Homo sapiens: one gene and its partners. The protein of the gene in region 1 purifies or fractionates together with the protein of each later gene. This does not show direct contact. Each region holds a gene or a part of one and is shown on either strand. Other genes may lie near its edges.

Region 1 (4,338 bases):
TTAAGTTAGCAAGTTAAGTCTGAAAGCGTCTACCTTCCCTGGGGAGGGGGAAGGTGTAGGCAGGGCAGAGATTTGTAGTCCAGCCCTCTTGCCACAAATTATGAATTAGAGAGGAATGACTTTGCTTTTTTAATGATCTCCAGAGAATTTTCCATCATTTCCCTCTCTTCACCCAGCTCCTTTGCAACCACTGCCAGAGAAGTCTTCCTTTAGCTTCTTAAACATCGATCCTAAAACACTTCCAGACACCTGTGCTGCTCCTTTCAGTTCCCATGGAGATTAGGCTGTGTAACAATCTCGCAAAGACGTTCCCCTCCGTCTCCTCATCCTCTTTTCAAACCCTTTTACGATTTCCCATCTCACTCAGCATGACAGTCAAAGTCCCTGTGATGGCCAACTTCTGCATCACCTAGCCAGTCTGCCACCGCCAAAACTCTCCAGCCTCATCTTTCTACTCTTCCCCTGGTTCCTTGCCCACGCCTTTACACTTGTTCTCTGCTTGGAATCTTCCCTCCCCTCCTTGAGGAACTTTCTCAAATGTCACCTTCCCTCAATACTCCCCCTCCTCCATTTAAAACTATAAACTTCCAACTCTCTAAGCCCCTAAAGTACTCTATATTTAACTTATTGTATAAACTACTGTCCCTACTTGTAAGTTCCAAGATTGCAGGGATTCACCCGCTTTGTTCACTGCTGTCTGCCAAGGTCTAGAACAGTGCAAGTTACCCAACAGGAGTTCAATAAACAGCCATTCATTTAACAAATATTTGCTGAGCACTTCGTCCCGTCCAAGTTTGTTAAATCAAGACAAATAAGACACCGTCCCTGCCTTTAACGCACCAGATGGAGAAATGCACCACAGACATAAATGTGCAATACAGGCCTGACACTACGGCCACAAGCAAGTCAAAGAACGTGCCAAAAGTTCAGAGGAAGAAGCCTCGGCTTCGCCTTTCGGGAGACCAGTCCAGCTTTCCACCATCACGCTGCTCATCAGGGACCATCTCCGGGGGTCTCCTCTAGACCCCAAGGGAGGAGCGGGTCCCGCCCGCCATTCCCAGGTCTCAGAGTTTACTTGTCCAGAGATGCAACTTCCGGCCTCTTCAGGCCGGGCAAGATTTAAGGAAAGAAAAGAAACATAAGGACCTCCGTTCTTCGGTCTCCGTCCCCTCCCCTTCCCCCGCGTGCCGTCCCCACAACGGGCCAGGACTGAACCCAACTCTCGACCAACTCCCGGCAGCAAAACTAAGCACCCTACTTCCGTTGTCCCCACCTGTTCCCGGCGTCCCCTTCGGCTACTCCCGGCGTTTGCGCAAGCGGTCCCACGTGGGCTCGGGCGGGGCTAGCGCCGCGGCGGGGGCTGGGCACGCCCCTAGCGCATAGCTGGCTTCTGATTGGCTTTCCGGTGCTCGCCCGAGCAGGGTTGGGGCGAGTGGACCGCGCCTCTAAAGGCGCTTGCCAGTGCAATCTGGGCGATCGCTTCCTGGTCCTCGCCTCCTCCGCTGTCTCCCTGGAGTTCTTGCAAGTCGGCCAGGATGTCTCAGGTACAGCGCGTGCACAGCCAGGCTGCGAAGGTGCAGCGGGCGGGAGGCCCGTTGGGGGCTCAGCCGGCTGCCAGAAGCTCTCGGGCTCTTTCCTTCCGTGCCCCTCACTTGCTCATGGGCCCATGCCTAGCCCTGATTCGTTGGACAGAGCCTTGTGAGCGGGATTTTCCGTTTGGGGATTTCTAAATCTGCTGCCCACCCCGCAACTGCCGGAAAGTTGCCCATGGGGTGGACTTCGCTGTGTAGCGGGAGAGGGGTGGGAGTCGAGGGTGCTTGATGGAGAGATGGGGGAAGGGGTTGCACGGATTGGAGGAGCGAGGAGACTCAGTCCCCATCCCGAAGCACAGGGCAGGACGTCGCGGCGGAGTGGGGAAGCGAGGAGTCCGTGGCCGAGAGCTTGGAGGTCAGGGGAAGTACGGGGCCGGCTGCTCAGAGTGCGGGACGAGGAGAATCGCGGCCCGGGGAGAGGTGACCCAGGGGCCCCTCCCTTCTCTCCAGTGTAGACCCTTGTCTGAGACCGAGCTATGTGGGGCGACCTCTGGCTCCTCCCGCCTGCCTCTGCCAATCCGGGCACTGGGACAGAGGTCGGTGTTGAACGCGCGGGCCCCAGGGGGAGGGAGGGGACCAACGGGCTCCGGCGCTGACACCGCGGCACTCATGCCCTGTCCCCTTTCAGCTGTTTCCAGCATACTGTGCCCCGTCTGTCCTCAGGCCAGGGCTTCGCTGCAGCCCCGGCCACTCCCTAGTGCCTGGCCCGGTGGTGGCCAGGCAGTTGGCCGCGCTGCTTCTCCCGCAGAGGGGACCCCCACTGGGGGCGAAGGCTTGGCCTGCCCTCTTCACTGCTGTATTTCCAGACCTGATGCCTGCGTTTGTGAGAGCTCTGGATATATGGTTTTCGATTGAATGAGTGAACTGGAGGGGCTTCCCCTTCTTGTGTTGCTGAATCTTTCTAGCTGCCCTGTTGGGGCAGGGAGGGGCAGACACACTTCAGGGGCTGCATTGCCCGAAGGGTGCCACCTTTCCCACCTCTCCATCCCCGTAACTGGGCTGTCATCAGGCCACAGTAGGATTCTTACCCTCTCCCACCCAGAGGAGGCCCTCAATCCTCTCCTCTCCCTTCCATTTAGGCTGAGTTTGAGAAAGCTGCAGAGGAGGTTAGGCACCTTAAGACCAAGCCATCGGATGAGGAGATGCTGTTCATCTATGGCCACTACAAACAAGCAACTGTGGGCGACATAAATACAGGTATGCAGAGCGGGGGTTGGAAGGGCATCTGCTCATCAAAGCAGGCTCAGCAGCTCAGACTGGAAGTCCCTGGGAACTTCACTCTCAAACTGCCTGAGGCCCTACTCTTCAGGTGGGGTATGGTGATGGTTCCTGAGGTGGAAAAGACCATGTTCCGGATTCTCAGTGTCTCCAGTAGTAACAGAATTCAAATCCTGGTTTTAGAAGGTCTTTACTGGTTATCACCAGCAGCTACTCTCTACTAGGGAAGAAGCAAAGGCTGCAGCTTGGAAAAGACTTGCTGAAGGCTCTCAGCTCAGTAGTATCATTGTTGAGCCGTTCAGCTTCTGCCCTAGATGGGCAGGATCAAAGTTGGAGCACTTTTTGGAGCACTTGACAGCCTGGCCAAGCCTGATGTCAGGAGCAGAGAAGCACCTGGTTTCTTGGGCTAGGTCAGAGCATTTCGCTAACAAGTCTGTGCCTTCCTGATGATAACTTTTTCCCTGCCCAGAAATCTTGGTGCAGATTTTGAGGCTGTGCTTTGGACTGTCATGTTCTGTAATAACATCTTTCCTGCCTTGGGCAGGTTTCATTCTGTCCCTAAGTCCCTGAAACATGGGTGGATACTGAGGCAACAGCGCAGTGCATTCTGTGCAAGGACTCAGGGTTATCATGGCAGCACAGAAGGGAGGTCTCCCCTGCCCCTGCTGAGGAAGAAGGCGAGCATGGTCCCTATTTCCGCAGTAGCTGGGGTGGAAGATGGAGCAGGTGGGCTGGCTGCCAACCAGCTGGAAGCAGGAAATAGTACCCAGAATGACAGATCACAGGCAGTACCATATCAAACCCTGGGGTTCACATGGAGCACTTAGTTGAAGAAGGTCTTATGGCGAAGGTGAGTTTTACAGTGAGTTCGTAAACTCTGTCCTTCCAGGGAGGGGAAGGAAAGGTGAAGTGGGGGAGGCCAGAGGTGCCAAGATGCTTTTCTGACAAACAGTATTTTCACAGAGACTGGCCTGTGCCCGTACTAGAGTTACCGATTTTCACATGAGTCTAGATAGACTGGCATAGGAATCTATCACTTACTGATCAAAGAGGTGTCATCGGCTCTCTCTAGGGCTGTACTATACAGCCCTATTACACGATTATAAAACATGATAGTCCAAACACGATAGTTTAGTATAATAGCCAGTAGCCACATATGACTATATAAATTTTAACTGAGGCTGGGCGCTATGGCTCATGCCTGTAATCCCAGCACTTTGGGAGGCCGAAGCAAGCGAATCATGAGGTCAGGAGTTTGAGACCAACCTGGCTAACGTAGTGAAACCCCATCTCTACTAAAAATACAAAAATTAGCTGGGCATGGTGGCATATGCCTGTAGTCCCAGCTACTTGGGAGGCTGAGGCAGGAGAATCGCTTGAACCTGGGAGGTAGAGGTTGTGGTGAGCCGAGGTCGCACCACTGCACTCCAGCCTGGGCAACAGAACGAGACTCTGTCTCTAAAAAAAAAAATTTTAACTGAAAATAGTTAAATAAAATCAAGTTTAGTCTTCATTCACAGGAACCACA
Region 2 (3,634 bases), on another chromosome or scaffold:
AATAGAATCCCTTAAAGATCCATTTAAATGTTTTTTGTATATAATTTTTACTTCTGTATTTTTAAAGAAATCCTGTCTAAAGAAAAAACTGTTTTGTATTGCCATTTTAGAGCACAGTAGAATATATATCTGTTGCAGCACTATCCAAAATATTTGCTGTCGCAGCAACATACCCATATCAAGTCGTAAGAGCTCGTCTTCAGGATCAACACATGTTTTACAGTGGTGTAATAGATGTAATCACAAAGACATGGAGGTGAGAGCACGTGCTATATCAAAAATTGCTTTGACAAGGTACCTTGCATATCTTAGACCATCCTGTTGATACTAGTTTTATAGCAAAGGCCAGTTTGCTGTGGTGAAAACATGATTGGTGGTCCCTGCTTTCCCAGTTATTACGTATGTGACCATGGCCTTAATCTCTCTGAGACTTAATTTCTTCATTTGTAAAGTAAGACTTTCTAACTAATAGGTTGTTATAAGAATCAAATTAAATGTGTGAAAATGTTTTGGAAAATAAAATTTAGGTGTTATAAAATATCTGAATGGTATTGAATATAAGAAGTCATAAGACTAGCTTAATACATTCAAGAAGGCTCCACACCTGCTACTGGCACCATAACTTTTGCAAATACTTGTTTCCATATATGAAAGAGATGTTTGTTCTTCAGTATGAGACTAGTTAAATTATTATAGGCAGACATCACCATATTTCCCTTTAATTCTAAAGGAACAGAGGAGAACATTTAGGATGTTTAAATTTAATTCAATTCAAGAAATATTTAATGAGCACCTAAGTGACAAATTTCTAGGCCGTATTCCATATTATTGGCATTAAGGAAATAAAGTTTTATATTTGTATGTGCTGTATTTAATGTTGGCTAGCATTTATCCAAGCTATGAGGTTTTTTAATGCCTACATTAGGTCAATTAAAACTCCTGCTTGTACATACATTTAAAAGCATTTGAAAGATAGCTAATTGAAAGCACTTTTTAGTTCAGTTTTGAGGTGTCCCTACCCTCTCTTACTCAGTCCATCCATAAAAGGAATGTAAATCCCTACAGATGGCTTATAAACTACATTACTTTAGGACATTGAAAACATGAACTTAAATCAGAGTAAGGTTTGACTGCTGCTTGCTCCATGCCTTGTGTCAGTTAGAACTTCCGTGTTTTCAAGCTAGCTCTATACAAAATTAAGCATTATCTATTTTTCCCTCTAAAGGAAAGAAGGCGTCGGTGGATTTTACAAGGGAATTGCTCCTAATTTGATTAGAGTGACTCCAGCCTGCTGTATTACCTTTGTGGTATATGAAAACGTCTCACATTTTTTACTTGACCTTAGAGAAAAGAGAAAGTAAGCTCAAAGAGGACAATTCCAGTATATCTGCCCAAGGCAGCAACAAGCTCTTTTGTGTTTAAGGCATAAAAGAAGAATTCTGCATAGAAACATGGCTCATATTCGAAATTGCTCTATAGTCATTAGAAGCCAGAGAACTGCTAAGTCTCCTGCAATGTTTTTCTTGCTTTTTGCCTTCCCCATATATATGGAACTTGGCTACCTCTGCCTGAAATGGCTGCCATCAACACAATGTTAAAACTGACACGAAGGATAGAGTTTCACAGATTTCTACGTTTTATTGGTGGAAGCTGATTTGCAACATTTGCTAAATGGATTAGATGAATGTACTTCTTTTTGTGAGCTTACTTGCCTGGATTGCTTTAAAATTAACCTTTGTGCAATACCAAGAAAATAGCTCTTTAAAAGAATGTCTTTGTATGTCTCAAGGTAAATTAAGGATTTACTGAATAAGGTGTTGACCAAATCCAGACCATTTTATTTTATTTTTTTATTTATTTATTTTTTGAGATGGAGTCTTGCTTTGTCGCCCAGGCTGGAGTGCAGTGGCGTGATCTCAGCTCACTGCAACCTCCACCTCCCGGGTTCACGCCATTCTCCTGCCTCAGCCTCCTGAGTAGCTGGGACTACAGGCACCTGCCACCACGCCTGGCTAACTTTTTTTTATATTTTGAGTAGAAATGGGGTTTCACCATGTTAGCCAGGATGGTCTCAATCTCCTGACCTTGTGATCCGCCTGCCTTGGCCTCCCAAAGTGCTGGGATTACAGGCGTGAGCCACTGCGCCTGGCCAGACCATTTTAGAATTGGGAAATTTTAGTGAGAAAAAATGCACTGTAAATATGCTTTAGTTTTAATTCAGTTGGGATGCACTACCTAGCGAAAATTGAGAAACTATATACTTCTCAGAGAAATATCTGACATCTATTGTCATTCCATTGCTATTTTTTTTCCCCAGAGACTTCCATAATTTAAAATAAAATCCTAGATCCAGTTCTTGTTTTTTGGCATAAATACTTAATCTATTTTAAATTTATAAAATCTGAGCTTCTAGGATCCAGCTGTGTCAACCTTTATTTAGCATATATAACTATAAATCACTTATTACAGATGCTAAATAGATCACCTTTTACAGATGCTGAAATGTTTGGGATATGTTTGTTGACAAGGTAAATGGAAATGAGAAACTTTATACTTCAGTTTTCAGATATATGGATCTAGATCCCAAATAAATGATTAATCTTCATTGGTTTCTCAAATTCAGGTTGAAATACAAATTAATAGCCTTTATTGATTTTACTTTTATGAGTCATTGTAGACATCTATAAATATAAAAGGGCCTGTACCCAAAGGATGCCAGAATACTAGTATTTTTATTTATCGTAAACATCCACGAGTGCTGTTGCACTACCATCTATTTGTTGTAAATAAAAGTGTTGTTTTCAAAGCCATCTTTAAATAGTTCTTTAAAAATAGGTCTTTTTTTTATATTTTGGAAAAGGCATTGTTTTTAAAGTAAAGATAAAATGGTAAGTACCTAATTGTATTTACTGTAATATCTTATAACATGCAGATGAATGCTTTATAAGTTAAATATGATGTATTTTTTCATACTTCTGGATTATACTATAATTCATATGAAATCTTGATATTAGTCCCCACACGGAAAAAGTGAACTGCAGTTGATATTTGGTGTTTAAGATAGCACCATTGTTTAAATACCGCCTATGTACTCCCAAATGAATAAAACATAATTCTTGTCCTCTGAGAGCATACAAGCTTGTGTGATAGATAAATATGCATTAAATAATTACAGCTATAGATTAAGAACTCGTAAGGAATATCTCACAAAGCCTGGTAAGAGTTCTGACAGAAGAGAACTCAATTTCAGTCATTCAACAACAAATAGTCACTCAACTCCTGCTCTTTGGCAGGTACGTCACCAAGCACTGAGGATATAGCAATAAATAAGCCAGACAATATTCCTGCCCTCAGGGAATTTTCATCTTGGTGTAAGTGACAGAAAAGGAAATATATGCATAATGTAATTTCAGGTATTTAATGCTATAAATAAAACTACAGCAGAACGGGGGAATAGTGTTGCTATCTTAGGTAGTATGGTTGGGGTCAGGAAAGGTCTCTGAGATAGTATTTGGAACATTTTGAAAGAAGTGAGGAAGCGAGCCACAGTGAGAGGAAACACATTCTAGGCAGAGAGGACAGGAAGTAAAAAGGGCCTGAGGGAGGAATTAAGTTGGCTAGAGGGGATGGGTGA
Region 3 (3,649 bases), about 81 Mb from region 1:
CTGTGCCTAGGGATGGAGGTAAGGTTAATAACCAGAAAGCCTGCGCTTTTCACATAATTTGATACTGAAGAACATGGACTCATGAGCTAGACTGTCTGGATTCAAGTCTTGGTTCTGCCACTACTTAGCTGTGTGTTTTGGGGCAAGTTATTTAACTTTTCTGTCCTCAGTTTCCACATCTGTAAATTGGGATAGTAATAGTGTCTACATCATAGAAACGTTCTGAGTATGAAATGAAGTAAATGTAGAGCACTTAGAAAGTGGCTGGGACACACTTTGGGAGGCCAAGGCAGGTGGATCACCTGAGGTCAGGAGTTTGAGACCAGCCTGGCCAACATGGTGAAAACCCATCTCTATTAAAAAAAAAAAAAAATTTAGCTGGGCTTGGTGGCGGGCACCTGTAATCCCAGCTACTTGGAAGGCTGAGGCAGGAGAACTGCTTGAATCCAGGAGGCGGACGTTGCAGTGAGCCAAGACCGCACACTGCACTCCAGCCCAGGCTATAAGAGCAAAACTCCGTCTCAAAAAAAACACAACACTCAGTAAGTGTTAGCTATTATGATAGTCAATGGGCAACACTCTGATGCACCTGCAGATTAGCAAAGAAGCAAACCAGGAAAGGCCTGGAAGAGAAGGATTAATGTTTAATTTGTACCCAACCAGTTGGGTAATGGAAACCTGTGACCTGTAACTGGCCTAATCAGCTCAGGGTCTGTATCCTGAGAGCCTCTCCATCCCTTGAAAAAATAGTTCATATGCTTGAATTGCATTCTCTGCTGATCTGAAGTAGACATGACAGATACAGAGTACCACGGGAAAAGGGAATGGAATTCAGAGGACATCTAAGTGAAAACTAGAGTGGAAAGTAATCTTGGTAATAATACAGAAAACAATCTCCAGACCTTAATCTTTTCCATCGTAAAGTAAGCACAGAGGAATTTAAAGAGAAGAAAAGTACCATAATATGCCCACGCCCAAAGTTGTAAGTATGAGGACGCTACTTTGCTTTTTACAGCCCCTCCCCTAAAAAGGCCCCAAACAGTTTATGCTGATTATTATACCATGTAGCCATCAAAAGTAATATGGGGCCGGGGCGGGTGGATTACAAGGTCAGGAGATCGAGACCATCCTGGCTAACACGGTGAAACCCCGTCTCTACTAAAAATACAAAAAATAAGCCGGGCATGGTGGCGGGTGCCTGTAGTCCCAGCTACTCGGGAGGCTGAGGCAGGAGAATGGCGTGAACCTGGGAGGCGGAGCTTACAGTGAGTTGAGATCGTGCCACTGTACTCCAGCCTGGGCGACAGAGCGAGACTCCGTCTCAAAAAAAAAAAAAAAGGGAACTCAAAAAAAAATAAAAAGGAATATGGTAGATATGTCATGACATGGAGCAATCTGAAGATATTTGATAAATGAAAAGTTGCAGAACAATGTACGATTATAGTGTGATACTCTATGTAGTATGATTCTCTTTATATGGAATATGTGTGTTTGTGTATTTATATATTTGCTAATATGTAGTTAATTCAAATTTTTAAATGAAGTGTACGTGCCAGACTGTTAATAGTGGTTACCATTGGAAAGGAGGGGAGTGGAGAGGTGAAGGAAGGCTTTTGTGTTTTAGTCCTTGTTTAGGTTGCTAGACTTCACAAATAAAAGTACAGGATGCCTGGTTAAATGTGGATTTCAAATAAACAGCTTATACTTTTTTTTTTTTTTTTTTTGAGACAGTCTCGCTCTGTCGCCAGGCTGGAGTGCAATGGCATGATCTTGGCTCACTGCAACCTCTGCCTCCTGGGTTCAAGCGATTCTCCTGCCTCAGCCTCCCAAGTAGCTGGGACTACAGGCACAGGCCACGACACCCAGCTAATTTTTGTATTTTTAGTGGAGACGGGGTTTCACCGTGTTGGCCAGGATGGTCTCAATCTCTTGACCTCGTGATCCACCCTTCTCAGCCTGCCAAAGTGCTGGGATTACAGGCGTGAGCCACCGCGCCTGGACACAACTTTTAAAGTATAAGTATGTCCCATGTATAATAATAACATGAACAAACTTATACTAAGCAATTATTTGTTGTTTATTTGAAACTCACATTTAACCAAGCATTCTATATTTCCTCTGGCAAACCTACTCTATATCCTTGTGTATTACCTAACTCTCTCTAAAGGATATTTTAATGTACTAATTATGTGATTTAAAAAAATAAGAAGAGAAAGAATAAGATCGCTTCCCCTCAAGACCACACGAAAGTATAACTTTGGCCTAGAGAAAAGGAGATTACAAAGCAGTGTTATACAGTCCCCCTTCAACCATAGTTTTGCTTCCTGCAGTTTCAGTTACTCAGAGTCAACTTTGGATTGAAAATAGGTGCATACAGTACAATAAGATGTTTTGAAAGAGAGAAAAGCCTGGGCACAGTAACTCATGGCTGTAATCCCAGCACTTTGGGAGGCCGAGTTGGGCAGATCACCTGAGGTCAGGAGTTCGAGACCAGCCTGGCCAACATGGTGAAACCCCGTCTCTACTAAAAATACAAAAATTAGCTTGGTGTGGTGGTGCATGCCTCTACTCCCAGCTACTCAGGAGGCTGAGGCAAGAAAACCACTTGAACCTGGGGGATGGAGTTTGCAGTTAGCCGAGATGGGGCCACTGCACTCCAGCCTGGGCAACAGAGTGAGACTCTGTCTTAACAACCACCACCACAACAAATAGTTTTATAAAAAGAAAGAAAAAAGCACACAGATGCATATACTAAAAGATGGAAGAGTGTGTGCACATAAGAATATTAGCAGTGGCTCTCTCGAGTGATGAGATGAAGGATAATTTCAGTTTTTTCTTTGTGCTGTATAAAATTCTTTACAATTTTGTATAATGAATATTAATTACTTTTGGAAAAGGAAAGGATCGTATGTAATGAAAGCCATTTTCTGTGATTCAGTGAGGACTTTGACATGCCCAAGATGTTACCATGTGCAGCATTCGTCTGAAGAAGGTGAGGGACAGTGGCATGCAACACACCTTTGGATTGAGGGTTTTTTTGTTTTTTTTTTTTTTTTTTGTGTGTGTGTGTGTGTGTGTGTGTGTGTGTGTGTGTGTGTGTGTGATGGAGTCTCGCTCTGTCGCCCAGGCTGGAATGCAGTGGCGCGGTCTCGGCTCACTGCAAGCTCCACCTCCCAGGTTCATGCCATTCTCCTGCCTCAGCCTCCCGAGTAGCTGGGACTACAGGCGCCGGCCACCACGCCCAGCTAATTTTTTTGTATTTTTAGTAGAGACAGGGTTTCACCGTGTTAGCCAGGATGGTCTCGATCTCCTGACCTTGTGATCCGCCTGCCTCGGCCTCCCATAGTGCTGGGATTACAGGTGTGAGCCACCGTGCCCAGCCTGAATTGAAGTTTTAAAAGTGCTGTCATCCCTTGTCCTTGCAGGATACCTCCAAAAGCAGCCATACTTTGGAGCAGTTATTGGGAGGGTGGCCAACCGAATCGCCAAAGGAACCTTCAAGGTGGATGGGAAGGAGTATCACCTGGCCATTAACAAGGAACCCAACAGTCTGCATGGAGGAGTCAGAGGGTTTGATAAAGTAAGTACGGCACATGTGACTGAGTTCCCTTTAGGCTCACTTTACGCATACCTTCTGCTTGCCAGGCAC

Evidence for each region.
Region 2: the proteins of DBI (region 1) and SLC25A32 fractionate together in Homo sapiens (co-fractionation; one large-scale study listed by BioGRID). This does not show direct contact.
Region 3: the proteins of DBI (region 1) and GALM fractionate together in Homo sapiens (co-fractionation; one large-scale study listed by BioGRID). This does not show direct contact.

The regions. Positions count from the first base shown.
Region 1 is NC_000002.12:119,365,517-119,369,854, forward strand, and holds the start of DBI (acyl-CoA-binding protein), read left to right. Parts: upstream 1-1,460; 5' UTR 1,461-1,535; coding exon 1,536-1,544; coding exon of another isoform or gene 1,545-1,574; exon of another isoform or gene 1,575-1,820; coding exon of another isoform or gene 1,821-2,012; intron 2,013-2,042; exon of another isoform or gene 2,043-2,068; coding exon of another isoform or gene 2,069-2,128; intron 2,129-2,197; exon of another isoform or gene 2,198-2,403; coding exon of another isoform or gene 2,404-2,415; intron 2,416-2,671; coding exon 2,672-2,789; intron 2,790-4,338.
Region 2 is NC_000008.11:103,398,138-103,401,771, reverse strand, and holds the end of SLC25A32 (solute carrier family 25 member 32), read left to right. Parts: intron 1-110; coding exon 111-256; intron 257-1,225; coding exon 1,226-1,361; 3' UTR 1,362-3,134; downstream 3,135-3,634. UniProt on the Homo sapiens protein: Facilitates flavin adenine dinucleotide (FAD) translocation across the mitochondrial inner membrane into the mitochondrial matrix where it acts as a redox cofactor to assist flavoenzyme activities in fundamental metabolic processes including fatty acid beta-oxidation, amino acid and choline metabolism as well as mitochondrial electron transportation.
Region 3 is NC_000002.12:38,672,487-38,676,135, forward strand, and holds part of GALM (galactose mutarotase), read left to right. Parts: intron 1-3,425; coding exon 3,426-3,580; intron 3,581-3,649. UniProt on the Homo sapiens protein: Mutarotase that catalyzes the interconversion of beta-D-galactose and alpha-D-galactose during galactose metabolism.